Regions from separate parts of the Homo sapiens genome. Here region 1 is linked to region 2. Evidence: fine-mapped expression QTL. A gene starts in region 2. The other region holds a variant in brackets. All regions are shown on one strand. Distances are from middle to middle. Region 1 holds the start of RERG-AS1 (RERG antisense RNA 1). Region 2 holds the start of RERG (RAS like estrogen regulated growth inhibitor).

Evidence for each region.
Region 1: its variant is fine-mapped to the expression of RERG in tibial artery (GTEx, PIP above 0.99).

Annotation. Positions count from the first base shown.
Region 1 is chr12:15,149,568-15,165,663 of GRCh38, forward strand. All of the region lies in intron 2 of RERG (RAS like estrogen regulated growth inhibitor), which reads right to left. RERG-AS1 (RERG antisense RNA 1) reads left to right here and starts at 2,356. Exons shown (of 3, transcript NR_046559.1): 1 at 2,356-2,503; 2 at 4,673-4,773; 3 at 5,629-5,716. LOC124902887 (a long non-coding RNA gene) reads left to right here and starts at 13,008. Exons shown (of 3, transcript XR_007063223.1): 1 at 13,008-14,262. The variant C/T (reference allele first, on the strand shown) is at 7,838.
Region 2 is chr12:15,214,442-15,230,537 of GRCh38, forward strand. It overlaps RERG (RAS like estrogen regulated growth inhibitor), which reads right to left and starts at 6,976. Exons shown (of 5, transcript NM_032918.3): 1 at 6,754-6,976; 2 at 2,988-3,162. The coding sequence starts at 3,048. LOC124902886 reads left to right here and starts at 6,227. Exons shown (of 1, transcript XM_047429948.1): 1 at 6,227-7,537. The coding sequence starts at 6,804. The coding sequence ends at 7,121.

The sequences.
Region 1 (16,096 bases), 65 kb before region 2:
CATACTGGAGGGGAAAAGTGCTACTTCTATAGAAGAGGGTGGAGACTTTAATGAAAGGAATTCCACTTCCAGTAATTTCTCTCAAAAGATCTATTGGACAAATGCAGAAAGTTACATGCACATAGATGATTCTTAGGTTAATATTTAGCCTATTTGTACTAAATAGCCAACAGCATGATTATGCCAACATGCCAATTCACATGGATACTGGATTTAGAAATGGTAGAAAATAAAATACTTTAAAGAAAAGTTGTTTCTGTTCATAAATGGTGTCTAGGACCAGCCTACAGATCTCCACCATCCTCGTTTCGTGACTATGATAGACATTACTAATCGATCATGTCATACTTTCCTTTGCGCTCTATGGCCTTAGAATCCTTCCTTCCTGAGAGTTACAACCCACTGAGATGAATGCATTTGCATATGCAGGGTATAGACAGTGGTTCTCCTACTATGCTACTTTGGTCTGTGAACCCCCCTGAAGGCTACTGGGGGAAAGGACGGGGAGGGAGAGTAGGTACAAGGCCAAGACTGCTCACTTTTGGACCACAGCTATGATATTAGAAGGGAGCTTAGTAGTCACCTTTGGATGGGATCTGGTAAAGATGCAGTGATGATATCTCAGGAGTTTTTCATTTGGGAATATTTACACAGTGTAAACTGTGTAATATGCATTTTTATATATTAAATATATTTTATACTTCAATACAAATTAAACAAACAAGCAAAATAATAGCTAACCTATCAGAGCCAAAACAAGATGGCGAGCTGAAACTTTATAGACCGTCAAATGTAGGCTCATATCTAGGCTCAACATTGTAACTTGCCGTGTGATTTGGGCAAGTCATTGGAGCTCTCTGTTTCATTTTCATTACCTGAAACAGGGATAAAGAATATCTAACTCATAGGATTGTTATGAGGAGTAAATGGCGTAATAAGGAACTTAGTATCATGTCTAATATATCATCGTAATATGTTAACAATGATAACTAACATTTATGTTCCCAGATCTGTTCTAGGGACTTAGTTTTCTCCAAAAAACCTTGTGTGGCAGGGCCTTTATTTTACAAAGAAGGAGACTGAAGCAGAGACTTTAATTACTCATCCAAGATCTCTCAGCTATTAGGTGGAAAAGCCAGAATTGGAATTCAAACAGGCTGCATATTAATCGCTGCATTCTCTTGTGTAATGAGGACCTGTTAAACAACAGTTATTACTATTACAAGAATAAATCCTGGCAGAGATGTGGGAGGTTATAGGGAAGAATTGAGTGTGGGCTGAACTGCTGTTCACCAGGAGGCAAAGGGCAACTCTAGGGTTAGGCTTTGAAATTCTGTGCTAAATAAATGGCTGCTATTATTATTATGCAATCTCCATACCTAATTTGAGACAGAAAATGAAAGTACATAATACATGCAATATTGTTATTGTACTTTATAAATACAGAAAACAGCTTGTGGAAACTTAATGCCATGCTCCCCTTTGGTCCACTACAGCCTGTTTCTAAAATCTACCCCAGGGGAGCATTCTACCTCCGTAGGCTACATCCAAAATCAGTCTTGGTTTTGTTGTGACTATGGGTGATTTTTTTCCTCTGTATTTTCTACGTTTTCTATAATGAACACACTTAATCTTAGAGTGGAAAACTGACTTTGAAAATAAAACAAAGCAAAAACAAAAACCAATCTCGGTAAGTCAATAAGAACCACATGTCTTTTAAATGGAAAACATGCCTATTTCTCCTTTGTTTCTTAGAAGCAGCTTGCCAGATACACAGTCCACAGCTTTGAACCATTTACATAAACATACCCAAGCCAAGTGTTTCCACGCAACAGCCAAATTGCACCCATATTAGCAATTTAATGACTTTGAAAGTAATAAGTGGTAGAAACTGATATTCACTTTGCTGGAATTCACCTTAGATATTCCTTACAAACCACAATCCAGTGGCATTTGTTGTAGATTGTAGATGTAGATATTCAAGAAACTTTGAAAGAAAACACTATTCATCTTGAGATGGGGGGAAAAATGCTAAGTGGTAACAAAAGGTAGAAATCTTTCAGGTGAAATGTAATGTCCAGGAACTGAATGGTAGTGGATCATAGTAAATCATCCACCAGAGGGCACTGCCAGAATATACAAAGTTTTCTTGGAAAAGATTGGACACCCCCTAACTCTAAGCAAAGAGAACTAATATGGTTAGGTTAACAGAATTCCACTTTTATTATGCTTCCTTTTCCTTTATAAATCAGGTCAGTCTTTTCCTCCTGATGAAGGAATTCATGAACTGCATGCTACCCTTACTGTTATGACTTCTAAAACTGCTGCAACCATTTGATTGGAAAAGTATTTTACAATAAATGCTGCGTTCCATGTGCTAAGTACTGAAGTTATTACCATGACAACAAGACCACCTTCTTGCCTACAGTTCGGAGATTAATAAAGGGCTCCTGAGATAACCACAAGGCACATGAAATAACCCAGGAACTATAAATTGCAAAAGGTAAATGCTGTTTTGTTTTGCACTTAAAGTACCATTGCTGTTCAGTGAAGGGAATATTGCCCACAGATGTTTTGGAAAGCCATCTGAGGAAGGCACAGAAGGTTGTACAAATAGAATAGGCAGAAAGGAAAGCAGAACACAGCATTAGCAAAGTCATAGGAGTCAAAATTTCATTGCTAAGGAAAACTAGTGCTTTTCATTTCATATTTCTGGCTGTCCTACTGACTTGGAATGCTTCAAATGCACCAATTCACCTGCCTTAGATATGGACTGATACTTCAGTCCCATCTGCTGTAATAGGTGAGCTTTTCATATTTTCTGAAGCTATTATCCATAGTGTTTCCCCTCTAATTTCAAAAGCCTAGAGAGAAACAATATGGAAAAAACTCTTGTTTTGGACAGAGAAGGCTCTGAAGCAAGCCACCTCCTAGAGATGGAGAGCTTCATTTTGTCCTGCCTGAGCCAAGATAGGACACAGTAGGAGTTTGCTGCAAGAACACAGAACACATCAGGTTTTCATGTAGCAGTGCCCTAAGAAGGAAACTGGACAAGGATAACTTGAATTGAGGAAACCAGTCCAGCTGGAGCACCACCCTGTGGTTTCGCATGGACTAGGAATAGAAATTTGCTCTGAAGAAATGTATTTTTAAAAGTTAACCTTCACATGGTATTTGAAGTTTCATAGAACTTTTTTGGATTGGAACCAGATCTAGCATGCATGTTCTTAGGTATTAAAGCCTAATATTATTATATTACTCTTTGAAAAAAATGAATTCTTTCATCATAGTAATTTTCTTAAAATATAACACTGCTTTTTACTTATATTAAATTCTCTACTGTTTCTGATGTTATGCTACTTAGGAAAATGCCATTTTCTTGTTAAATTAATATGTGCAGACAAGTATTTACTTACCACACATGAACATGAGCCCCTTATAAGTCATCACTCCTAATATTTATGGTCTAAGAATGAGGTAGTTCGGGTGAGTCACATATTTACACTTAGCAGAGAGATTAAGAAAAAAATTCGCACCACAATTTCCCTTAAGTAATGGAAAAAATGTGACTTGTTACACATTTGTTTTCTGGGTCAGTGTTTTTCCAGCTTTTCCATAGAGTCTTAAGGTCATCCAAGGTTTCTTTAGGTTTTCCTAAAAGAAAGAACTGGGGAGTTGTGATGGGTGCTTGATTTTAAATGTGATAACAATTATCTGCGACTTTTAGAGAACACAGCTAACCATTGTGAAGATTACTGTTCTGGATAGTGAAAAATATGAACCAGCAGTATAGGCTTTGAATGTTTGAAATTGATGATCTTAAATTTCTTAAATAACAGGGCCCTAGACATGCACTTTGCTCACAAAAGAGATCTTTTACCCCAGTCTTTAGAAATTTGCTTAAAGTGGGAGAGTCTAGTATTTATAAATAAAAGGAAAGCAGTAAGATTCAGAAAAATACCATTGAGATTTATAAGGAACTAGAGAACCATAGTTCCTGGAAAATCCAGGAGTAATTGAATAGCTTTTATAATATAAAGAAAAAGAATATTCACGGTGCATTACTTTTGGCAGCCTATCATCTAAATATGGCACCCAGAATAAATGCATTGACTGAAGGGAAATTGTATGATTTGCATAAATTTTACCAATGGCTATAAATTATCCTCTCTGGTGATTTTTCAAGATAGATAGTGTTATGGGTTGAATTGTGTCCCCTCAAAGGACACTGAAGTCCTAATCTTAGTATCTGTGAATGTGACCTTATTTAAAAATAAGATCTTTGTTGATGATCAAGCTAAGATGATTTCATTGGAGTAAGCCCTAAGTGATTAAATATGACTATGTTCTTATGAAATGGGGAAATTTGGACACAGAGACAGACACACACAGAGAGATGATATGGAAACATAAGGAGAACACCATCTGCAAGCCAAGGACGGCCTGAGGTTACCAGAAGCTAGGACAGAGGCAGGGAACAGATCCTCCCTTACAGACTTTGGAAGGAACCAATCCTTCTGACGCCTTGATTTTGGAGTTCTAGCCTCCAGAAGCATGAGGCAGTAAATTTCTGTTGTTTAAGCCCCCCAGCTTGTGGTACTTTGTTGAGGCAGTGCTAGCAAACTAGTACAGTTATATATTCTGAATCCTTGTCTTTTGGCTTGCCATTTAGCCCCCGAGTCTCCCTGGCAATCAATAAAGCACAGAAGCTTTGTTCAGATTGCCAACCACCCGGTTCAGTTCTGGACAACCTCATACTGCCATCCACGTAAGGCAAGTTCCTTTTAAAGTTTGCCAGACCAAAGCAATTAAGAGGGCAAATCTGTTGGAAAAACTCACATATTGCATTATGAAGCCAAATATAAATTCTACTTTGATTATTGTTCCTTATGAAGGAGAGCAGTGTCTCTAATAATCAGAAAAGAATCAGGGATTGATTGTATTTCATTTTCTTCGAGGAAAATTTGGCCAAATAGCTAAAGTAACCTGATTAATGAGAAATTTGCAGAATGGGAAAAACACTGCAATTATAGGCAGCAACCATGGACATCCGCTGATGGCCAAAGAACATAGCCAGTCTTCTGGTGCGTACATTATGTGGCAGCTCGTTGGTCTCCTGCCAAATAGGACAATCAATGTAGGTTGAAATTTGTCTCAATCTCACTCGGCAATCATATTCATAAACACTGCCTCTGTGTCTTATTTAGGTGAGACAGCAACTTAAAGACTATTATGTAAACAGAATTTTCATACCTAGAATTTTAAAAATGTATTAAACTTTAAAAGGGTCTTTCCTAATATTTGATGGAGGAGCTTCAGAATAGTTAATTTAAATGAAATTGTAGTATTATATATTTTCATTTTTTAAAATGTTAAGTTGCTAAGTGTGAAGGCTTTAGACACTGACACCTCATATTGATTCTTGCTTTACAAAGAGACTTGGAAAAGAAACCAGTGTATGTATAAAATGATTAATTGGGATAAGAAACTCAGCTAAGAGATATTCAGACTGGAAAAAACTAAATAAAGAATATAAAACAAGCAATTAAAAAAAGGAAAAAGCAGGCATGGTGTTGAAGTATATGAAGTAATCTAACACCACTGTGTTTTTTCATCTTCATTTTCCAGTGTCTATGCTGCATTGTAACTTTTGGAAAAACATGCACACACCTGGTGCCACCTGGGTAGGTGTGACCAGAACCTGCCTGTTGGAAAATAAAGGATTAAAAAAATGAAATGAGAGAAAGTGACACATAAAAGGACAACTTAAGGTTTCCGCAAAGCAAATACATAACCAAGCTGATCAACCCTCCAGCATAGTCCTTCTGAGCTGTGTTTCCACAGGAAAATGAGGGTAGAGGCAATCACAAAAGTCTTGGCTCTCATCCACCCCTGTGGCCTGCTGACACAGGCCCAGCTTGCCAGAGCACTGGGGTCACAATGAAGTTGCTGCCAGTAGAGCTGCTTTCATTAAAATTGAGTAAGAAGAACAGGTAATGGGGTTGGGCAGAAACTAGGACCTGAAAGTGGTTGGGATTGGGGGACTCCTGTCTTCTAATTGGGAAGGCTGGGTAGGGCTTCTTGGTAGTACCTGACAATTATCTTGTTCTAGCATTTACAGCCTTTCTCTACTCCTGGAGTCACTGCAGGGCCCCCAGGGGACTCTGAAAACAGCCAGTTGTTAAGCAAGGGTATTCTCCACTAGGGCTACCATGAAGTTTATATTATAGAGCTGGATCTTTCACCCCTTTTGTGCTGTAAACCATTTGTGCACAGCCTTTGAACTATTTCTCATAATAATACTTTTTAAATATATATAAAATATATGTCATTACAAATAAAATCAACTATGATGAAATATGGCACATGTATACATATGTAACTAACCTGCACAAAGTGCACATGTACCCTAAAACTTAAAGTATAATAAAAAAATATATATATATATTTATAAATATTGATATACTGTTAGAAAAACATTTTTTAAAATAAATAGGTGATATAGTAATTACATTCTTTATTAATATGTTCAATATAATCTGGTCTTGAGCTTATTAATTATGATTTCACATTAATGATGACGAAAAATAACATTTTGAGATATCAGCAACAACTGATACGAATGGAAATATCCATCATTTCTATTAGGGACAAAGTCACAGGTATTGCTAACACTGTGATTTGTTTCTACATTCATCATGGAAGGCAGTGCCAAATGTCATTTAAGGGTGCATGAAAATGTAGATGAAATGTTTTCCCATACAAGTTCACAGACCCCCTGAAATCTACCTGTGGACCCTTTGCTGGATCTGGAGTTCAGGTTAAGAACCCTGCCATACAGGCTTACCCATCCTAATACGGAAGTTTACCACAAATACCACATCAGCTTTCATGCAATTGTATGATAATTACCAACTTTTAAAACAGTGTCACTTTAATCTCTATCTCTCTGATGATTCAGAAATCACTTCAAAATTTTCACAAGAAGTAACATTGTGAGTATCAAAAAATTTGCCCTGTAGACTTGGGGAATGCTTGTTAATGAAATTACTAGGTTCAGAAAATCTCTAATAGTTGTTAGTATTTTCTTTCTAAACAAGAATGTGCAACAAATGATGCAAGAGCAGAATGGTATTATCATTGCTTTGCGAGTCCTCAGGAGAAAGAAATAGAGTGATCAATATGATCAATAAAACAAGGCAGTTTAAGCTTAAGTCAGACCCTGAAGTCAGGCGCATTTTCGTGCAAATCTCAACCCTACTACTCACATTTGACAAGTTATTTACTTCTCTAAACCTCTAAGCCTGTATCTGAGCTACAAAATAGGGATAAAAATAGTGCCTATCTCATAGAGATATTGAGGGGATTAAACGAGGTAATACATGATAACATACTAACTCAGGCTCTGTTGTTAGAGGATCCATTGCCCCTCTTGCAAAATGGGAAAATGGAAACCATCTTCAAGTCTGTCAGACATCTCTAAGCCTGTCTTTTCTTCCAGCCTCTTTTCTTGGAGTTGCTCTACATTTTCCACTGTAGTGGATGGCCTCCGTTTTTCATTCGGCATTGCAGGAATTTTGAAGAATACACAGTTTTTGAAAAGAGACAGACAGTTCAAGAAGACAGGGGAAAACAGAAGAGGCCACTTATTTTGCATATAAGACAGATGCTCAGGGCATACCAGAATAGCTTAGAATTATTTGTAATCAGCAGATATGAGTGTAGGTCTGGTATCAGCTTTAAAATGTTTTGTAATGTTGAGAAATATTTTACAATCCATCCACCCCCAGTTTTCCTATGACAAAATGTCAAGAGGGACGTGCAAGAAGCTTGAGAA[C/T]CAGCAAGTAATTTTTCATATGAATTCCCACTAGTTGGGACTGACTTGAAGGATGTAATTTATGGCCATTCTTGGGAAACAACCATGAAAATGTAGTGCTAAAGCTTGTCAGCTGCTTCCTGTCCCCTAAAGTGGTAGAGATAACTTACCAGAGTGTCCCATTTTCACTCTTTTTGGTTCCCACATTATACTTACAAACAAATAAAAACAATACAAACATGAAAGAGAACTCCAACTTCAAAGCACGCAAAGATAACTGATGACTAGGAAATAAGAGCTTTGGCTGCTTATTTGAATAAGCCAGGCTTTTCTTTTTCATCACAGTACAATGTAAATGACTGCCTTTACTGATGAGAAAATTTTGCTTTTCAACATTTTTTTGTCACTCTTTTGTATATATTTTCAAACTTAGAAAAAAGCTATGAGAAAAGATTACATAACTCTCATATTCTGTTTATCCAGATCCACAAACTGTTTACATTTTTCCCATTTGTTTTATCATTCACTCTCCCTTCTCTCTATACATAAATATTTATGTATAAATAAATATATATACACACATTCATATTTTTCTGTACCTGAGAATAAGTTGGAAACATTTTGCCTCCTTACATTTAAGTGTTTCAATATCTATACTTCATAATAAATACATTTTGTAGGATAACAAAAGTATAATTATCAATATCAGAAAATTTAACATGATGCAATGACATTATCTAATCCACAGTCTATATTTGAATTTCTTCAATTGTCCCAATCATGCCCTTTCTAGTTACTTTCCTCTCCTTGGTCCAGAATCTAATCTAGGACTGAACATAGCATTTAGTTGTTATAACTCTTTACACTCTTTTAAATTGGAACAGTTCCTCAGTTTTTTTGTTTTTTTGTTTTTTTTTAGATAGAATCTCGCTCTGTCATCCAGGCTGGAACACAGTGTTATGATCTTGGCTCGCTGCAGCCTCGACCTCCTGGGCTCATGTGATCTTCCCACTTCAGCTTCCCAAGTAGCTAGGATTACAGGCACACATCACCACACCTGGCTAATTTTTGCATTTTTTTAAGAGATGGGGTCTCACTGTGTTGCCCAGGCTGGGATCAAACTCCTGGGCTCAAGCGATCCACCTACCTCGGCCTCCCAAAGTGCTGGGATTACAAGTGTGAACCATTGTGCCTGGCCTCTCAGCATTTTTTAATGATATTTCATCTTTGACATTTTTGCAGAGTATAAGGAATTTTGAAGAGTACACAGTTTTTCAAGAGAGATAGACTAAAATGTCCCTCAGTTGTCTAATACTTCCTCATAATTAGATTCGGATTAGGTATTTTGGGGCAGAAATGCTACAGAACGATGTGTGTCCTTCTTAGTGCTTCATATCAGGAGGCATATGTTGTTGGTTCATGTCCCATCATTGGTGACATGAACTTTATTTTATTAAGGTGGCATTATTTTATTTTATTTTATTAAGGTGGCATTTTTTTAGAATTTTCCAATGTAAAGTTATTATTTTTCTATCTGACAATTAATGAGCAATTTGTGGAAGATATTCTGAAACTATGTAAATATCCTGATCCTCACCACACTTTCACTCATTAGTTTCAGCCTCCACTGGTGACTCCTGCCTGAATCAATTATTTTGATAATTTCCGAATGATAGTTTTCTAACTTGTCATTTCTTCTACATTTATTGGTTGATATTCTATTGTAAGAAAGAACTTGTCTTTCTCCCTGTTGATTTTTTTATACACTTACTGTTTATATCAACAGGGAACCATGTATTCTTTTTTTGTTCAATGGATTGTAATCCATTACTGACATTACTTTGTCTCAGAAGTCACCAGGGAGAGTCCTTTCAAGCTGGTTCTTGTGTCCTCTTGATAGGTCCCTACCATTTGTGGCCTACAACCACAATAGTAGTTCATGCTTTTGCATAATTTGCTGCCTTACTAGTACAGAAATACCTTTTTCGTTCTCACATAAAGATAATTATTTACTTTTACAGAAGGGAGAATTATTATTGATTTAACTATATATTTTAAACATTGTATTTGGCCTCTCAGGATTTTTAGTTTTCAAATAAAAGTTATTGATTTGGACATATTTATATCTATTGATACAATTTAAAAAATCTTAATGGAGGGCTGGGCACGGTGGCTCACGCCTGTAATCCCAGCACTTTGGGAGGCCGAGGCAGGCAGATCACGAGGTCAGGAGATCGAGACCATCCTGGCTAACACAGTGAAACCCCGTCTCTACTAAAAATACCAAAAACTTAGCTGGGCGTGGTGGCGGGCGCCTGTAGTGCCAGCTGCTTGTGAGGCTGAGGCAGGAGAATGGTGTGAACCCGGGAGGCGTAGCTTGCAGTGAGCCGAGATTGTGCCACTGCACTCCAGCCTGGGCGACAGAGCAGGACTCCGTCTCAAACAAACAAACAAAAAAATCTTAATGGAAACAAAACAACAACAAAAAATCCCAACCAAATTTATCTTCCAAACAATGGAAAAGGGTGAGATTTAATGCATCTTGGCCTAAGACAATTAAGAAAATTTTGATATTCCATAGTTGATATAAGAAGGAAGAAAGCAGTAGAGATTATCATACATTTTGGAAAATAGAGGGAAAAATGAACACGAATATTTAGTATCTATAACAAATTTCTACTTGTATAAAACAGCAAATCTGTTTCATTATAATGGCTAAGTACAGTTCTCCACAGTTGAGCAGTTTTTATTTGTACACTTCTATATATGTGCATATATATATGTGCACATTTTGGTCATTTTTTTTTGTTTTGAATCCTTGTCTTGATATTGTACTGAAAACAGTAGTGTTAGATTGTGTATATTTCACGAATTCTAAGTACAAAGCACTGTGACCCTCGCTGGGCAGCACAGTAACCATGCGCGGGTACCGACCACTTGACAAGCTGAAATGAGGCACACAGGGATTGCAGCAGGTGCAAAGCATCTCAGGTGCCGCTGAAACATGGCTTTTTAGAAAACTTTTGTTAAGGGCTTTTCAAAACTTTTGTTAAGGGCTCCATCTATAAAGGAAACAAGAAGAAATCACACCGCAAAAGGTATGCAGAATTTGGAGTGTAGCCTTAGATTTGTTAACCTTTCAATCTCAGTTTCTTCATGTCTAAAATAGAAATCACAGTAATATTTAAATTATTTATCCCACAGGATAATTTTAGTGATCAAAAGAGATACTGCCACAATAAAATACTTTGCATATGAAAAATAATTATATTAATTATGATCATGCTTTGTCCAAAGACATTTGAAGGCATTACACAGAATGCTGGAAGTCAAGAATTAACGCAGCCCCACAGCTTGGATGGCAGCATAGTGGAGACGGAGATGTAAGAATTGAATTGGAAAAATACATCAGGGTTTGCTCAATAAGCATTAAAGCCTTAGGGAATAATACTCCTTAGAAACAGGGGCATCGTCTGGGCGCAATGGCTCCCACCTGTAATCCCAGCACTTCGGGAGGCCGAGGCAGGCAGATCATCAGGTTAGGAGATCAAGATCTTCCTGGCCAACATGGTGAAACCCCGTCTCTACTAAAAATACAAAAATTACTCAGGTGTGGCGGCACATGCTTGTAGTCACAGCTACCCGGGAGGTTGAGGCATGAGAATTGCTTGAACCCAGGAGGCGGAGGCTGCAGTGAGCTGAGATCACGCCATTGCACTGCAGCCTAGGCAACAGAGTGAGACTCCATCTCAGAAAAAGAAAGAAAGAAAGAAAGAAAGAAAGAAAGAAAGAAAGAAAGAAAGAAAGAAAGAAAGAAAGAAAGAAAGAAAGAAAGAAAGAAAGAAACAGGGGCATCACTTAGTGTTTTGCTCTATCTAGTACAAATAAAGTAATAAAGTAGGCCACTGTGTCACACAGTATAATCTGTACATATGGACCATCCCAAGGAAAACATCAGTCAACAAGTGTATTCTTTGGAGAATGTTTATCTTCTCCTTAGGTCCTCTCCAGTCTCAGGAATAATAAGCTAGTTCCTGAAAGCCCCTTGTACAGTGCACAGACCTGTTCACCAAACACTCTGGACCTTCCTTCCTCCTTCTTCCCATTTACATTTTGCCTGTTCAGGAACCAGCCAGATCCCCTTCACTCACCATGAGTAGCTGGTGCACTCAATTAATTCTCCTGGAAGCACATGCATTTTAGAAAACGATTTTAGAGACTCACTCATTCACTTGATTGATTATTTATCAAGCACCTATTTTGAATCAGAACCTATGTTAGGAGCCTGGACTTGAACCATACACAAGACCTACAGTCTCTGCCTTCATGCAGCTTACTATCTGGTGGTAAAGATATATAACTAAGGAATCAATACTACCAATAACAATAATAATAATAATAATAAAACATATTGTTGACCATTTACCATGTGCCAAGCACTGTTCTAAGTATTTTGCATTAAAAATCCTCTTCCCAAAACATACAAAGTATATTCTGTTATTATTCCCATTTCACAGGTTTAAAAATTAAGTCTTATGAAGCTTAAATAATTTTCATAAAGTTACTAAGAGGTGGAGGCAAAATTTAAACCCAGTATCCTTACCTGGTAAGGAGATTCGAGAGCATTGTAGAAATACATTGTAACTTAGACTAGTGGTAGGAACGGAAATTTTCCCTGAGGAAGTGCTGTCTAAAGAAAGACTTGAAAAATGAGACTACTGCCTTAATCAAAATGAATCTCTTATGAATTTCAGAATACTTACACAGAACAAGAGCAAAGCAATGGGAAGAGGAATGTTTGAGGGCCGAAGGACCTAAATCTCATTGCTGAAATGGCAGACTACTCTGGTTATGCACTGAGTGAAACAAGGTCCAGGCACAGCCCTGGCCAAGGACTGCCTCCAGGAGAAAGTATGTCTTACATCAATCAGAATAAAAAAAGAAATCAGGAGTTCAAATATTCCAATGTATCAGATAAATCCTCCAGCTAAGAGGACTGGGGAGAGCTTGGGCATATAAATATTAACTATACAGGCTTAAAATCCATAATTAAGAACCCCATTAGAGTTTTCTCTCATTCTTAGAGACAGGTCCTATAGCATTGTTTTTATGATGAAGGAATAATTAAGATCCCTAATTATCATACATGTCCCATTATACATAAGCATTATACATCCATTGGTCAAAACATAAATGGTACTACAATGGGTGGGAGTATTGAAGTGAGAAAAGGCAGCAGAGAAGCCTTTCTTCTACATACATGAAGAGCTCTTTTGTTCTCAAGGAAGGAAAATATAACATGAAGAATTTTTTAAAAACACAACCAAATAAATTTACGGTGTGGTTTCAGCTTTATTTTTCTGGGCTCTTAAAGATGACCTAGTCCAATTCCCTTATTTCACAAATGTGAAAATTATCTCAGAAAGGTAAACTTGCCTATCATCACACAGCTAATTCCTGCCACTGTGAAAAATGGAACCTAGACCTCCTTACAATATTGCTCTAGACCTTAGAGTCCTATAACATACGTTTATATTATGAAGAGTTTCCATTCTTCCTATTAGCAATAGGTTTTATGGAGATGTTCAGGTTAAGCCTAGATTTTTGCTAAGAATTTTGATGAACTTTGCTGAAGCAATATGAGTATTATTTGCCCTTGAGCCCCCGGTTGTGTTAACGAGGATCCCTAGTTTCAACCTTTTGTTGAAACATCACAAAATGTAGGTGGAGACTATAGCACTTTCTTTTGCAGTGAGTCAACAATGCCAGAAGCACTACACAAAAGCCAAGCAGACGTTATCCCTGCCAGGTGGCCTGATATTGAAAAAAGAGAAATAAATAATATGCTAGAAAAATTGGATGACTCAGGGAGCAGGGAAGAAGAAGAGATGAAGATTAAAATTGATAACATCATTTTGTGACTCAGAGTCATTTTTCCTGGATCATATTTCAAACGTTGCCCTTGTTAATTTTCCAATGAATATACAGATTTGAAAGCAAAGGAACAATGACCCAAAAGAACTAAGATTCGACATGAATGTGAAGAATTGGGTTACATAGGGGAAGTGTTTCCAGTAGCGGATAAGACATACATGTGGAATAGAGGAAAGAAAGTAATTTAATAGTCAGATGGTCTCTGCTGCGAATCCAGATCTGCTCAGTGAGAGTGTATCATAGGGTCTAGCCAGGAAAACAGAAACCACTCTACGTCTTTCAAACCGATGCATTTAATCAAGGGAAATTATTATCCAAAATGATGAAAAACCTGAGAAGCCATTAGGAGATGGAAGGCAACAGGAGAAAACTGTAACCACAACTAGAGGTGATGAAACAACAGGAGGAAATGGGTAACCAGAGCCCAGCATCTGGAGCTGTCCAGGAGAAGCTGGAGTCAGTGAAGACTGCCTAGTGGGAAAGACGATCATTGAAGGAGGAGCTTTCTTAAGGTAATTAGAACTCTAGATGGGACCCAATTACTCCACAGGAATGGAAACATCACAGGAAATACTACAGGAAGGGGTAGGGCGGAGAGAGAGAGGAGAGTGGAGAGAGGAGAGAGAGAGAAACATTGTGGTTTTTCCTTTCCATATTGCAGTCTTCTGCTACTACCTCACATTGGCCAAATGTGCCAGAAATGAAGAGGAGAAGAGAGACAAGGAAATGCAGTTCTATTTAAAACAGAGCAAAGCAGGGAAAGAGCAAGAATGGATGAGGTTACTCAGTTAATTGACTAGCACAAGGCACAGTTAATAAGGTCTGACTCCAGAAGACTCACTGATCTCTGAGCCAGTCCTGACTGGAGCAAGTTTTACATAGGGGCTCCATTACCATTTGTGGGGCCTAGATTCATCCATCCTCCTTTCTAGAGCTTCTGAAGTAAGCTCAAAACTCACTGCCTATTCACCAAACTTTAGACTTCTCCTAAACAATCTAAGTATTTGGGACATCCATAAAGCTAATGTCCAGCTTACCACATGAGCCTTCTCTGAACCTACTCCCTTCTTTTGAGACTTTGACAGCCTGTGAAGCTCATTAATTCCCACTTCCAAGGGACATGAACAAGGCTTGCACCCCCAACTTTGGGCTAGAATATTGATCCGAAAAGGATTGATCATCTGGGGCTTCAGTGCAGCCACCTATTAGACGTCCTGTATCACCACTAGCAAGTTTCTCCAGGCTCTGTGTTTCCACCCACCCATTGGACCGCCTTGATATAGTCAACAGCAGAATTTTCTATTAGTTGCCATACCCTGAGCTGTATAGACTTTGTCTTAGGGGGCCAACAGAACCACTGTTTACTTTGCTGGGCTTGGATTACCCATGGTCCACTAAGCAGTCACATTGAATTTTCCTTCTTTATCTCTCCCTCAGAAATTTGCCACCCACAAAAGGTGTTAACTAGCACAAAATAGTCAAAGGTGTATGAGAATAAGATAGAGTTAAAACAAAATTTCCTTTGGAAAATTGACCTTTTGCACCTGGAGAGAATCCAAAGGGTATTATTGAAGTTTTCCAGTGGAGCACTCTCTTCATTAAGCCAGGGTGCCGCTCTGGAAATTTTAATGTAAGAGCAAATTGTCAATAATCCTCTTGGCACTAAAGGTTGTGCTCTCTCTTTGAGGTCTCAAACAGCTCCTCCAGAGCAGACTCAGAGCTAAATGAAGAGTAGGAACAAAATGTACCAAAACCCAAATTGATTCTGAGGACACGATCAGATTCTCAGTCATTTGCCTTGTCCGTGTGGCACTTTAAAGCTGAAGGTTAAGGGAAGGACTCCTGCTGAGCCCTGGCTGCATTAGTCATAGCAGCATGTCTTTGAGCGGCGACCACTCAAAGACAGCAAATTACGGATTTCTGCCTCTGCATGTAAACTGTCTCCGTACAACTAAGGAAACTAGATTGGAACTCATGTACCAAACACTTCTTCTAGCCAACAATCTTTTAACTTCTGCCAAGACTTTTTTTTTTAACTAAAATAAAGTTGCTCAAGCTCCAAAAATAACATCTGTTGCTCAGAGTAACATTTTCAAACAACATAATAAATTGTACTTCCAGAAAATATACACTTTATGCTTCCCTAAGGGAACTCACAAATGGGTGATGTGGGATTCTCAGCTCCTTCATTTCATGTACTGCCTGCCCTTGGGCAAGTTGTTTAGGTGGTATGGGTGGTGGTAAGACTCACCATGAGAAATTTACCTTCATTTACAGCATGTAGGGACTGGAGTAGCCTTAACTAACAACTCTCCCCAGATGAGCCTGGTAGGTTAGCAGAATGAA
Region 2 (16,096 bases):
AAAGTAGAGGGGACAGGTAAGACTTAAGCCTCTGAAACAATTCAGTGAGGAGCTACCGAATTACATTCCAGCAGGTATAATTTCTTGCAGACTTAAACAAGCAAAAGTTACCTATAAGACTGATAAAGTCTCTGCAGTAGAAAGATAAATGTGTGATACAATGATGAGGCAGAGACATCAAATAGCCATATTCACAAAGAATCAGAATCAACATAAATTCAATATTGTTGCAGTCTATTTTCAAAATTGTTGCATATGAGCCAGGTGTGGTAGGACACACTCGTAGTCCTAGTTACTGGGGAGATCAAGGTGGGAGGATCTCTTGAGCCCAGGAGTTGGTGGCTGCAGTGAGCTATGATCATGCCACTGCACTCCAGCCTGAGCGACAGAGGGAGACCCAGTGTCTTAAAATAAAATTGGTAGATATGAAGTAGTTTGTGGTCGTTTTCACTGAACTATGGAAAAAGGTTTCACAATTTTCACCCATGCATCAAACGAGTGCTACTTTTAAAATGTGAGGTGCAGTTACAGGTCTCAGAAAAATAATTTAATGTTGACATAGGAAAACACTGTCTGTTTATAGATGACAGACAAAAAGGCAATTGTTAAAGATATGTAGTCTGTCATTGTCATTTTCACCTAAATGAAAACAAACACAAATGGTGGAATGTATTCAAGGCAAATAGAGAAAACAGTCCAAAGAAGATTTGAATGTTAGAGTTGGAAAGAAACTTAGTGAGCAATTTCAACCTGTGCATTTTACATAAAATAAAATTCAGGTCAGCAGAATTTGATCTCTCTGTGCAGGTGTTATCTTCAGCTTTGGGTGTGAGTAGCACTTCTAGGGGCAGTGTATGGAGTAAGGACGCAAGAGGATGATATATAGAACCCTGGAAGCTTCAACTTTGAGAAGTGCGCAGACGAAGAGCAAACCCATGAAAACAGCTAGTTAGGAGCTACGGAGAGAGAGCAGCAAAGCCAAAGAGTGTGATGTCATGGGAGCCTGGGAAGGAAGGAATTTCAGGAAAGAATAAGCAGCTGTGTGATGATAGAAAGAAGTCTAAGAAGATCAGAACTGGAAAATGATCATTAGATGTGTTGGTCATTGTTTGGTAGTGACCTTAGCAAAAGCAGTTTCAGTAGCATGGTTGTAACAGAAGATGGCTATGTTTTAAGCAATGAATGGGAGAGTTAAAAAAAGATAAGACAGTAAGGGAAGAACCCATATTCAATAAGCTTGAAGAAAAGAAAAAGATGAAGCAGTGGACGAAGACATGCGTGAGGAAAAATGGTCAGGTGAGAATGAGAGGAATAATTGAAACAATGTGGGGAAAGGCAACGAAAACAGGCATCCCAGCTCAGGCTGATGCATGAGCCTTGACAGGAGGAGACACCCAGCTTGCTCCGAGATCATGAAGATGGGAAACGGATGGACGCACGTACAGCTACGTGGTTCTCTCAGCTGAGTTTTCATTTTTATGTTTGACTTCTTAAATCGCATGTAGGTTATTTTAACAAATGATACAAGGTTTTAAAAAATCTCCTTCCCTTATTGCCTTTGGAAGTCTGGAATGAAGGAATAAATGGTCAGCCTCAAGCCTAGACCCTGCACTCACAAGGAGTTAGACAAGCTCTTGCTGGCAGTGCACATCTTCTCCCACACTGCCTTCCCTCCATCCTCCACTCACAGGAATCATTTCCTCATTCTCCAGATCCTTCTACCAGCTACAGAAATTAGGTTCTCACGCCATTAGGAAACACTGAGGAGATTAACAGGGAGGAGTTTAACTATCTTCAATCTTGTGAAGGCTGGCAGTTTCTTAGCCTTGCCAACTATCTATTTTCCTTGTGTGGTTTCTGCCAGAGGCAAGAGCAAACCAAACAGAAGAAAATGGTGGTAGCAGGAAAGAGTACTCTTGAGAAAATTAAAAGAAAAACGAGAGACAAAGACTTAGAAGAGGGAAGATTACTGCTGAAATTAAACCAGACAGCAGGTTAGAAAAGAAAGGTTGGTCACAGAATTAAAAAGCAATTATGTGTATTTGTCTAAGATTTTGTGGATTACCTAATGTATTGGATTATACAGTTTATTTCCAAACAGGTTTCCCTCTACAAACATGCACCTACCAGATATCTGTTTGAGTCCTTTCCTGAGAACCAAAAGCTCTGTGTACAGTTAATTATGGTTCCTTCCTCCAGTAAGAGACTAAGGCAAGAGGTTACCCTGAAAGGTCATGCTGCCCTAATGTTTCAGCAACGTTGACTTTGGAATTCTTTAATTATAAGATCGAAGATGTATTTTTCAAATTAGATAGCAGGTACATTTTTCACTTCCACCATTTCACCCTTAATCTTAAAGGTCTGCTAGCGATTTCTCAGATAGTGAACAAAGTCTCTGAATTACTGATGTTAGCCAGAACTTGCTAATTTAAATTCACTGCAGAGGCATTCGCAATAGCTATCTTGCTTGAGAGCATGCACTCCTAAAGTTTCAGGAATCCTCTCAGGATTTTTGAGTGTTTGGCAATAATGCAATTCTGTTTCTGATAAAGCTAGATTCACTTAAGCATTTTTAAAGCACCTAACACATGCTTGACACTGGACTGTTTGCTGAGAATATCAAAATGAATGAGATGTAAAATCAGTCCCTCAAGATCTCATACATAGAGAAAAGAACAAATATATATTTTTTAATTTCCATCATCTGATTTCTTTGGAGGTTGTTAAAAATCAGAATGCCAAGACCTCTGATATATCCTTTATCTTGTGTGTTATCAGCAAAGCTACTTCAGCATAAATAAGCAAAAGGATACGTAACAGTCGATTACGCAAAATAAAAGTTCTAGATGAAGAGACTTTATCTAAAAGAGTAAGAAATGAAAATAGGAGGAATACCAACTACTCACCTGCCCAATCCCAAGAAACAGTAATAAAGAAACACACTCACCCACACACACACACTATAACAACCACAACGAAAATCTTACCTGACTTGCCCACGCCTGCTCTCCCAAATATTGCCAGTTTGACCTCCGCACTTTTAGCCATGATGGGTGTTGGTAGACAATTTACTGTTGTTAAAACTAAAGCACTGAGTAAATCTTTTTGGTTCCAGTCTTTGGATTCACCATATCATTGTGAATCTTGGAAGAGTCCACAATCCTTAAACAAAAGAAATTTGGGAATTCATAAGTGACTGGAAAATGAATTAATATTTATTGAGCATCTACTATATGCCAGCCACCATTCACTTTTTCAACATTTTCTGGTTTGATCTTTACCACTATCCTGTGAGAAGTCTATGGTAACTTACTGTAAATGATTTAACTAATAAATGGTAGATTCAGGACTTGGATTTGGATCTGGTTGGTACTAAAACGTGCATTATCACACACAATAGCATTTCTAAAGTACTTCCTCAAGAAATTTTCTTATGAAGGTATTGATTCTTGATAGTAACTGAAAGTAAAAGTGAATACACACATTTACCATCTATCTGTAAGCATTCAGTGTACAAACACATGCAGTGGGGCAATGGAGAGAGTCACTTTTGGGCCTCTTCATGTCTCTTTGGGTTGAATAACATACATTCATATTAGTCAACTCCAATGCAACACAATTCAATTTTGCATCTCAAAGTTAAATTTTTTCTCAATTCACACTTGATCACATGATGAATTCCTGTGACAGATACAGATACACATGTTCTAGGAATCAATATATAATACATAGATTACATTTCTATATTTTGCTGGACACAATGCCCTGGTACAAAAACGATAAATGCCATGCTCCAAGTTATTCCTTTTCTATGATGACTTCAAGTAAATTTGTTTATAGTGCTGTCTTAAAGCTTGGGAAATAACATTATGTACAAAGTAAGCACATCTTATTTAGTTTGGTGCTTTAGGAGTGACATCTAGGTTCTTAGGATCATGGAAACGTAAATTTGGAAAGAGCTTTGGTGGTGGTGGGGGCTGGAGTGGGGGTCATCTGAAGAAATCTTCTAGCCATTCTTCTAGCAAGAATCTTTCCTTAGGACATAACAATCATTCCATATTCCATGCCTGACTTACCACTTCCAGGTATGAAAGGTGGGCTCATTACTTCTGAAAGCTGCTTCATTTCTCCAATTAGGAGGAACTATCTTTCTAATATTGAGCTCTAAACTGTCTCCCTGCGGCTTCTACTCATTTGTCCTCATTTCTCTCTATGAAATAACTCAAAACAAGTCAACTTTTTCTTTCACTCAGAACCGTTCAAGGATCCTAGCATCTAGTAGGACCCTTTGCTCCATCCTAGGCTTCTTTTTTCTAGGAACATGAGGCCCAGCCTGTCCACTTGTTCTTCCCGGAATGTACACTCTCGTTTATGTTTTTTTGACCTTCACTCCCTTTTTCATCATGTGCATTGCCTCCTCAACATCTTAATCACTCTAAAAGCATGGTGTCCACTGCATTCCACTTTGAGATATGACCTGACAAACTGACCCGGTGTAAATTCCCTGAGATTTTCACTATCGTTAATCTGCCCACCATGGTTATACTGTAGCACAGCCAATCACATTAAGCCTCACATCTTTTACACGGACTGCAGACCCCCTCATTCCGAACATTTGCAATCAATGGCTTAAACCTAAATACAGCACAGCACTTTTACCCGTGTTAATCTTAATCACACCAGTCTGCATAATTCATTCCATTTTCAAGGCAGTAAAGATGTTTTAAACACAAATATGTTATCTAAATGTGTTAAATGTTCCTGCCAGATTTTTCCATCTATAAATTTTTACAAAGAGCTTCTTGAGAGAGAAATTAAAAAGTGAAAATCCGCCTGAAAAAGTATTTCTACAAAGACATTATCATGTAATTGTTTTCTTCCTTAGGTATTTAAGCTATCATCCTGTACCTAATAAGGTTTTGTATTTGCTGATTTTCAAAGTGCCAGAGCTTCCTCTGAAGGAAGGAAAAATCAACATTAACATTAGCTATTGTTTACTTCATCCTCAATAATGACAAAGTGTCTAAGTAATCATTATTAGCAAAAACCAGAAGCTTAAACATCTGCAATTTGTCCAGTCCCATATTTTTGGCTAAAGATAAAAAGATTTCCTTATTTGTCACTTTAGATGCATTCATTAAGAAAAGGCCCTATGTTTTTAAGGTTCAGGGCTTCATCACAGAAACATAATATGTGGAGATATATTAACTATTTAAATTATAAATGAGAAGAGGTGCTGGCAAGTATTTCTTTGAAACATTGAACACGCAAGTGTCTGCAGCTAGTATAAACAATAATTTTGTTTCATGCAAAACTGTTCATATACATGGATATAAAATGCAAGTAATTATCTGTCTGATTAATGTTTCATGAAAGTAGCCATCAAATGTGATTTTAAAAAAATGACAAGTCACATTTTTTAGTAACTCCCAAATGGCCCCAGAGGCATAGGAATTTCACATAAGAAAGAGAAATTGTGTGGGCTATTTTTTCCATTTATAACCTAATAAAGATACAGCTGGTTATTGTCAACCTAATTTTATGTTTAGAAAAATCACTTAAAGGAAGACACAAAACTGACAGGAGTTCTTCAACATTTTATTTCTCACATGAAAATGTGAAAAGTTACATTTGACAAGATAGAAAACAAAAATAAATATGTAAATTGTTGTAATAAGTAAACTGTTGCCAAGTTTCTGATGTTCCAAATAATTCATAATCTGAGAGCTTCCATACGTGGATCTAAGAAAATCCATTTGTCCTAATGTTCTGCTGAAATATTCTGAGTAGGGCTGAAATTTGCCATTCACTTTTTATGTGGATGGTGCTTATTAGGACAAAAACATCTCAGCTGCTATCACTCTAAAGGTAAAATCATACCTATTTAGTTTGAAGGTGTAGGTTTTTTTTTCCCTAAACATAAATTAAAGGAAAAAGGAAAAACGCTAGCTAAAATCCTGTATTATTAGTGATGCATTCATTGATTTATTCCACACTTTCACGCTATGCACATACAAATAAAAGTAGTTCCCTTCGAAGAGCTTACACTCTGTTAGACCTATGATATTTAGATAACTGTAACCTTATTTACTTACTTATTTAAAGAAAGTTTTCATTCCTAATAAATCATTCTCAAGGCTATATTTATCAAGGTTCATGCTTTCTACTTCCTCTTGGGGGTGGGGCAAGCAAGCGTCTTTATAAGGTAATCATGCTTGGAACTTCTGTTTGCATGCGCTCATCAAAATCAAGTGTAGCTATTTAGGGAAGCAAAGACCCTAGTCTAGGCCTGGAAATGAGATTCTCTTCTTTTTTGGCCTCCCCTTCTCTGGTTCTGAAATCAAGTTTTCCTGGTCTCATTACTAGGAATTCTTCCTCTTCTTATCACTACGCAGTACCCACAGCAAACCAGGATAATTGTATAAGCCCCTTGGCTATTTAATGTTGCTCTGAACTCAACAGGTATCTTGCAAGAATAAACAAATCCATTGTGGACTGCAAGTCACTTGCTTTCAGGCTAGGGAGAAAATGCAGCCTTAAGTCAAAAGGGCATTTTCCCTCTCAGCTAGGAGAGCCCTGTCAAGATAGGCTGCTGGTGTTCACATCTCCCTCGCAGCGAACCCCAAAGCCGCCCTGGGAGGAGAACCCGGTGACCAAGAGGACCGACTCAGAGGCCGAGCGCGCTCAGGGCTCGGAATGGGTCTGCAGGAAGTCGTCCCGAAAGAGCTGCCTGGACACGTGCGTGACACTCACCTGTTCACACTCTCCAGGCCAGGAGAGCTACGGTCCTCTGCAAGTTCGGAATGGGTCCCCCAAGATCGCGAAGCCCTCCCACACTGCGCAGCCCAGGCTTCAGGTTGCGTTTGCGAGTTGCTGGGCTGCGGTCGTGGGTGGGACTCGCCGCAGAAGCAAGTGCCAGTGGCCCGGCGGGGGTCTCCTCACTCGCGCTCGCTCCGACTAGCGGCGGAGGGACTGCGGCAGGACGCGAGCTGAGCCCGGCCAAGGCCGCTGCGCTCAGCGGCCAGGATGCTGCAGTGCGGCGCTTCGGCGCCCCCTACTGGGGGCAGGGGCAGGCTCCTCCCGCCGCGCTGCCTCCCAGGCTTGCGAGCTTGGGTCTTTAACGTGCTGCACCCAAGACGGGCTTCCCTTTTTCACTGGTTATTTCCAAGCCTCCAGGCTCCCACCGAAGGGCGGCTTTCCTCGGTCAAAACCTTGCCTAAGAAAGCATCACTACGTGGTGTTTTCTATTCCTTATTTCAAATGATCCTCGCAATATCTCTTTGAAGTATCTTTAATTATCTCCATGATACCCAAGAGGAAACTGAAGGAGAAGGTAACGCAAGGCTAGTAAATGGCTGGAATGAAATCCAGACTGGATTGGGAACTGAGAGATGCTAGGAAAAACAAACAAGGAATTCAATTGAAATTCTATTCATATATTTGAGAAAGTTCCAAAAGCTTCTCGTCCTCCTTACAGGATCAGCATTTATAGGATTTGCATTGGAGTCATACTCCATTATGCTCAGACCCTAACAAAGACAATTAATATGCGAGCTGTGCTGGACCTGCTTTCATATCCCTCATCTGATTTGATTTTTACACCCTCTCTTCATGTAAGAACTAGTATTATAATTACTAGCCTTTCACAGATGAGGAGGTGAGCTTCAGAGAGGCTAAATGATCTCCCAAAAACTGAAACATCTGAGCAAAGAAGCAGGAGGCACTTATGTTATTGTTTTTCCCTTATAAATCTGGGTATTCTTACCAAGATACCAAACGGCTTCCAGAAAACCAGTGTTATATAGAACAGACAGGGGCCTAGGGCAAACTGAACGATCTGTAGAATGTCATCAATGGGAAGGGAGGTAACCATGGAGGCAATTTCCAGAGTCCAGACTGACCTGGAAGGTCACTGCAGCCACGAGTGAATGGCTGAATGGAACAGCTAGATCTATGGCAAAAAGAGGAGTTGCCTAGCTGAGCAGGAGCTGCCCTGCTGGTTCTTTGAGAAAGCTCAAACATTGTATGGTTTATGAGTTTCCTGATCACTAATGTACCCCTCCCTCCACACCACATACATCTGGATTAGATGCCTCCCTCTGTATCTCACAGGACCCTGTGATCTTATCATTGTGTTTGTGTTGTACTCATTTCTGCCCCTTAGTCCTCTCCATTAATCTGTGAGCTCCCAGAAGCCAGGAATGTACCATGTGTGACTTCTGTATTCCCAGCATCATCCATACAGTGTGTATACCTACAGCCTGGCATATAGTAGGTAGTTAAAGAATACCTACTGAATTGAATGAATTAAGATAAAGAAGAAGTTGTGATAGGATATGTTTGAGCTTTTTTACATACTGGATTTAGGATAGACCATCCAGTAAGAAATTGAATGTATGGGGCTGCGACATTTAAGAAAGAGGCCTGGAAAAGAGAGAGACTTTGGTGTCTTAGCATGCAGAAGATCTTTGAAGTCTGGGATGGGATAATAATTACCCAGATTCATTATATAGAATCTTACAGAATTCCAATTACATGGAATCGTGTGGCATTAAGGTGTTCAGGTTTCACATGTTACCTTGTTTCCCCCATTAAATCTTATACTCAGGGCAAGATTTAATAAAAAAAAAAAAATCTGTGACCCTATATCTGTAAATATACTATTTACAGAGACTTGAGTTGGAATTCCCACTTTGCCACTCTTATTTAATAAGAGTTATTGACCAGCCTGGGCAACATGGGTAGAGACAGCGTCTCTACTAAAAATACAAAAAATTAGCCAGGCGTGGTGGCACGCATCTGTAATCCCAACACTTTGGGAGGCTGAGATGGGCGGATCACCTGAGGTCAGAAGTTCGAGACCAGCCTGGCCAACGTGGTGAAACCCCATCTCTACTAAAAATATAAAAATTAGCCAGGCGTTGTGGAAGGAGCCTGTAATCCCAGCTACTCCAGAGGCTGAGGCAAGAGAATCACTTGAACCCCAGAGGCGGTGGTTGTAACAAGCCAAGATCGTGCCATTGCACTCCAGCCTAGGTGACAAAAAGAGACTCTGTCTCAAGAAAAAAATAATAATAGTAAGTTTTCGAAGAGGGCCCAAGCCAGGTCCCATTTGTAGTAGTTCTTTTGGAACTTGCCTATGGAACCTGATTCTCTCCATTTTCCTGCTTAGCCCATATAACAACAGCATTCCTCCCTCAACTAGGGAGGCATTTGCATACACATCTGCAGTTCTTGATGTGCTGCTCTAAGATAGATGAAGTAGCTATCTTGGAGCCTGACTCCCACTGTGTTACATCTTCCGTATGTATCCTATATTCTGCGGGCTGCTTCCTTTGTCTCTAAAGCAGCAAAAAGAGGCACGCTCTCTTGTGCTGCCTGCCTCATGGATCAGTAAGAAGGGCAGAGGACACTTTGTACTTACGGTTCCATGACATATGTTTGCTGGGCAAGAATTCTCCTGGGGAAAGGGGAAGTCCTTGTCACATTCAAGTCTCTTAGCCTGGCCTTAGGCTTCAGCTAAAACCTCTAACACAAAACAAGTAGACGAAGTGTTGATATAACCACAAAGCATGTTAGAAACTGGAATTGTGTGTGTGTATGTCTGTGTAGCTGTTAATCATGTTTGTTATAAATAATTCAAACAGTAGAAAAATACAAAGATGTAGAAAATCATCCCCAGAATCACACTATCCAGAAATAATAACCATTGTTAACATAAGGGGACCATCATCATTCCAGATATTGTAGAAAACAGACATCCTGATGGACAGGTATGTGAAATGGCACAGATATGCTAAGTGTCATCATCCTGTAGATGCTATTTTTAATTTAAAAGTACACTTAATGAAGCAGAAGATAACAAAATTAAAGTGAACATTAAAGGCTGACCAAACTTTAGATATTTACTCACTTCATGAGATAGTCACTTACTTCATGAGATATTCACCCTAAAGATTCCTTTACAGTTTGAATTATTACATAAAACCAGATCTGAATTCATTATGCTTAAACATATATTTGTTTTAGTCAATATCAACTGACTGTTTGCTATTTAAAAAGAAGAAAATAGCTCTTTTATTATGTCTCTTTTTTTCTTCCCTCCTTCTATATTTTTACACAGGTTTCGTTTGTTCATTGTCAAGATTTGTAACATTCACTTTCCACTTATAACTCTCATTCCCAAAGTGGTTTAAACTTAGTTCTATATTTAAATAGAATAAATTTCTTTCATTGATTCTTTTATCATGTTTTTTCTATTATTGATTATTTTGATTCATCCCTTGATATCTTCATTAAGCAATGTTTTCAAGAAGGTCTTGCAGGTGCTGTATTGTATAATTGAGAATACCTGTTTCTTCCTTTTCTTGTTGTTTTTAAATTTGTTATTAGCCTACTTTTGCTTACAATGACCTTCTCCTCCTTTTTTTTCCTGTGTAGTGTGTTTTTATATTTATTATTGGTTTCTTTTTTAGATCAAGACTCATATTTGCTATGATACAAATTCAGTTAATTGTGCTTGACTTCATTCCTACCTTGTCTGAGGCCTGTTTGTTTTTTCTATAAAGCAATGGTTTGAAGGTGAGCATTGCATTCTGTCTACCATCCCGAGATGAGAAGGTGAGGGCTTCTGAGTCTCTGTGCAGCCTCTGAGAGAGGTTACATGCTCTGCTTTTGTTCTCAGGTTTTACTAAAGACTCTGTCTCAGGATTTAATGCAGGCCATCAGGATCACATACTGTTTCAGAAAGATTCCCTTAAGCCTGAGATTGCACTCTTCATTCATTCTTGGAGCCCTCTACTCTCTCTCCCAAGCCATTTCTACTATGACTACTCACTCTGCCCTCTCCTCCCATCAGAAAAGGGTAAGTGTAGTTGCTCAGTTCATTTCACTCCAAATTTGCAGACATTCTTAACTGGTGAGAAATAATACTTACGATTTGATCACTCATCAGTACTGCTTCTGGAAAGCCAGGACTTTCTATATCATGATCGTTTATTTTCTTTATTTCATTTTGAAGTTACATGGCAAGAAATTATACTCATTTCCTTATTTTGTTGCTACTAATGATTATCTTTTGACTTTGGGATGAGTATTTAATTGCTGTTACCATTTATTTAGTTAAATATTAGGCAAAGGCAAGACTGATTTTAGCTGAGATTGAACTTTCCTGTTTACTGGGAACAACTATAAAGGCTAACCAAAATATACAAAATAGCTGTTTGGAAGCATTGGCAAACAACCAAGGCAGGGCTGCACATCTGACAGAGGGGATGTACTGGAGTTTAGCCTCACAGGCACACAAATTTTCTTGTTGGGGGCATTTTAAGGGCCCATATCCATGAAAGTGAAGCCCAAACATCAGTGAGAGATTAGGGTTCAGGGCTACTAAAGCAACTGGGTTCAGAAGGCTATCAGAAAGGGCAGCAGCCACGGAGACAGAAGCTCAGATATTTGCATGGAAATGTCCCTAGGATCTTGGCTAATTTCAGGGCTGCACATTGCGTGGTGAGTCTCTGAGACATCTGGTAAACATCATCACTGGCCATCAGAGAAATGCAAATCAAAACCACAATGAGATAACATCTCACACAAAACCACAATGAGATACCATCTCACACCACTTAGAATGGCAATCATTAAAAAGTCAGGAAACAACAGGTGCTGGAGAGGATGTGGAGAAATAGGAACACTTTTACACTGTTGGTTGGACAGTAAACTAGTTCAACCATTGTGGAAGTCAGTGTGGCGATTCCTCAGGGATCTAGAACTAGAAATACCATTTGACCCAGCCATCCCATTACTGGGTATATACCCAAAGGACTATAAATCTTGCTGCTATAAAGACACATGCACACGTATGTTCATTGTGGCATTATTCACAATAGCAAAGACTTGGAACCAACCCAAATGTCCGACAATGATAGACTGGATTAAGAAAATGTGGCACATATACACCATGGAATACTATGCAGCCATAAAAAATGATGAGTTCATGTCCTTTGTAGGGACATGGATGGAATTGGAAATCATCATTCTCAGTGAACTATCGCAAGAACGAAAAACCAAACACCGCATATTCCCACTCATAGGTGGGAATTGAACAATGAGATCACATGGACACAGGAAGGGGAATATCACACTCTGGGGACTGTGGTGGGGTGGGGGGAGGGGGGAGGGATAGCATTGGGAGATATACCTAATGCTAGATGACGAGTTAGTGGGTGCAGCGCACCAGCATGGCACATGTATACATATGTAACTAACCTGCACAATGTGCACATGTACCCTAAAACTTAAAGTGTAATAAAAAAAAAAAGGACTGAAAAAAAAAAGAACAGCTGCCTAAAGTCTGAAAGCTCCTGAATCCCAAGATGTGAATTACAGAGTTCTCTGAGTGCTGAGAAGACATCCGAGTTTCAGCCCAGTCAGCGTTCAGAAATCTTTGTGAAGTAGGAGTGAGGACCATTAATGCCTTAGGCAGAAGGGCTGTAACCTGGGACTAAGGGTGGATCTGAAAGACAACCCCCTACAACAGAGACTAAAATGAGACCTTTACAGGAGCAATCTAATCCACCAGCAAATTAACAGCCTGCCAAAACAAAATACAACACTCTTGAAAAAGTTAACAGGATCCAGAGCCTGTATAACCATCATCTACAATGTCAAACCTACTGAATTAGTCTGCTCAGGCTGCCATGACAAAGTACCCCGGAATGGGTAACTTAAACAACAGAAATATATTTCTCACATTTATGGAGGTTAAGAAGTCCAAGAAAGTTTCATTCTGAAGCCTCTTCTTTTGGCCAGCAGGCGGCCCTCTTTATGTGCTCACACGACTTCCTCTGTATGAGTGTGTGGAGAGACAAAGAGAGCTTTCCAGTGTTTCTCTTTATAAGGACATTCGTCTTATTGGATCTGATCCATCCTTATGACCTCATTTAACCTTAATTCTTTTTTGGAAAGGTTCTATCTCCAAATAAAATCACACTAAGAATATGGCTTCAACATATGCATTTTGAGGGCACACAAACATTCAGTTCATAACATAGACAATAAACATTTCCAGATAGGCAAGAAGCACATAAAATTTATCAATACTCAAGAGATAAAAATACAAGATAGATGTCTATATATTGAAGTAATTAGATGAAGACTTCAAAATCGCTAGGATTATTATGTTAAAACCAACAGAGGAAATAATGGACAAAGACAGATAAAAATATAAAGTATTTATCATATTTTTATCCATTTGGGGATATTTCACAGAGAAATAGAAACTATGAAAAGGATCAAATAAAAACTTTAGAACTATAAATAAATACTTAAAATTAAGAACCCATTTGAAGGGTTTAACAGTAGATTGAAAGATTGGAAGACAGAATAGTAAATCCAACGATCTGTCATTAGAAAATGTCCAAAATGGACCACAGAGGAAAAATAAACAATGGAAAGATCAAAACAGAGAATGAAAAATGTAGAACATGATCAAAAGTCATAACACACATGTAATTGGAGTTCTAGAAAGAGAAGAATGAAAGGATGAGATAAAAGCAATAGTTGAAGAAATAATAGCTGAAAATTTTGCAAATCTAATGAAAGGTAGTAATCCCTCAATTCAAGATGTTTCATGAACCCCAGGCAAGGTAAATAAAAAGAAAGCTAAACCTACATGCATACATCAACTTACTGATCAGCAAAATACAGAGAAAATACTAAAAACACCTACAGAAAAAAAACAAAAAAGACACACAGTTTTTAAGAAAAAAATACAGTAAAAATGGATTATAGCCTCTCAATAGAAACTGTGGAAAACCTAGGACAATGAAAAGGCGTCTTCAAAGTGCTGAGCTAGAATTCTGTATTTGTTGAAATAAGTCATTCTCAGACAAAATTTGAGATAGTTTATTGATTGTCAGCAGAACAATGAAAAAAATGATTTCAGATGGAAGCAAAACCAAAAAATTCTAGTAGTGGCAGCAACTCCTGATAGGGTAAATAAATGGGTAAAAATAAATGAATATTAACCAATGAAAACCACAAGTATAAAAATGTCTTTACCAGGCGTGGTGGCTCATGCCTGTAATCCCAGCACTTTGGGAGGCCGAGGCGGGCAGATCACCTGAGGTTGGAAGTTCGAGACCAGCCTGACCGACATGGAGAAAACCCGTTTCTACTAAAAATACAAAACTAGCTGGGCGTAGTGGCACATGCCTGTAATCCCAGCCACTTCGGAGGCCGAGGCAGGAGAATCACTTGAACCCGGGAGGCGGAGGTTGCAGTGAGCCGAGATCACGCCATTGCATTCCAGCTTGGGCAACAAGAGTGAAACTCCGTCTCAAAAAAAAAAAAAAAAAAAAAAAAAAGTCTTGTGGGTTTATAATTTCTGGAAGTAAAATATATGACAGTAGGAAACAAAGTAAGAGGTAGAAATTAAGTTATGCTGTTATAAATTTCTTACATATTGAGGGATTTGGCAAAATTACTAACTTAGACCAATAATGTAACAATGCACTTGCAATTTCTAGGAAAACACTAAAGGAATCCCAAAGTATAACCAAAAAAGCTAATAGAGAAGATAAAATAAAATATAAATATTCCATTAATACAAAAGAAGGCAAGAAAAGAGAAATAAAGGAACAAATAGATGGAAAAATTTGTCAACAAATAAGAAGATAATAGACTTACGTCCAACTATCTCAATAATTACATTAAATGTACATGTACTGAACACTCCAGTTAAAAGACAGAATATTTCAGATTGGATTAAAACTGATGCAACTGTATGCTTTTTACAAAAATCACTTCTTAAATAAAAAGGCACAGATAGATTGAAAGTAAAAAAGAAAAAAAAAAAAGGAAAAAGATGTTCCATGCAAACACTAGCCAAAGGAAAAAGGCAATTTGCAACTGACCTTCCTTCCATGTCATTCCATACATGAAAGTTAGCCCAAAGCCTGTGTTCTGAATCATAATGCTTCACTACTTTTATAACACAGCGAAGTTCATCTCCCTTTGTAATATTTCTTTGTCTTGGCCAAGGTTGATGGCCTCCGTTCTTCTTTCCCATTCTCAGTTCATTTGGTGTTGTTCTGAGCATGACAACAGGAATACTAGAAATGAGCACGCTTAGAGAAAAGTAAGCTGTAGTCAATATTCTGTGTCTCTTCTGCAGATCCTCACTCTGAATCTTCCTACTCACCTGGCCATACCCTATGGTGGGCAGGATTGCTGGAATGACAGCCCACTTTGTTTAGGAAAGGGAGAAGACAGTGAGTTGCCCATATCTGAGCAGATCTTTGAACCATACTCTGAACCAAATTTAGTTCTTATTAGTCCATCTCTGTTTAAACTATTTTTCCAGACTATTGGAGATTAGATTCTCCTAAAAGAATTGGATTTCTTTTTGAATTCTTATTGCTATCACTTTTACTGACTTTTAAGTGGGCAGTAGAACAGTTCTAAGATTAGTTGCCTATGCCTCCTTGTTAGTACTGTGCAATAGAGAAAGAGAGAGAGAGACTATCTGCTAACAGTAAATGCACTTTAGTTATCCTAGTTATATAAGTATTGCAGCTATGTAAGTTGGAATCTTGAAGAAATTAATAAATTCAAATAGAATAATATATTCCACTGGAGGTTAATGCTGCTCAGATGATATCGGATGATCTTTACCTAATAAACTGTCAGGGAATTAGAAACACATTTGCAAAGTTCTGACAATTTGTGGGACCTGGAATAACATAATAAAAGCAAAATTTAGCTTACCACAGGGTCAATGTGAAAAGCCACATTTACTTATATAAGAAAGTCCACATGGTTTTGTACTTCCTAACTTTGCTTTTAATGATACATAAAAACAATTCCAAACTGGAACATTTTTTGAACCTCACAAATTCCAACTTATCATCTATGGTTACAAAAGGTTAAGAAGCCACATGAGCTAGGATAATTTTCCCTCTGTTCTGTCTCTTATATAGGGTTGAAAATAGAAACTCTTTTTACATGAAATCATCATTTAATGAATCTAGTTGATACAGAAATCCTAATGTTTAATAACAGCCACCAACTGATGCCAATAAGCAGCTAACTCAGG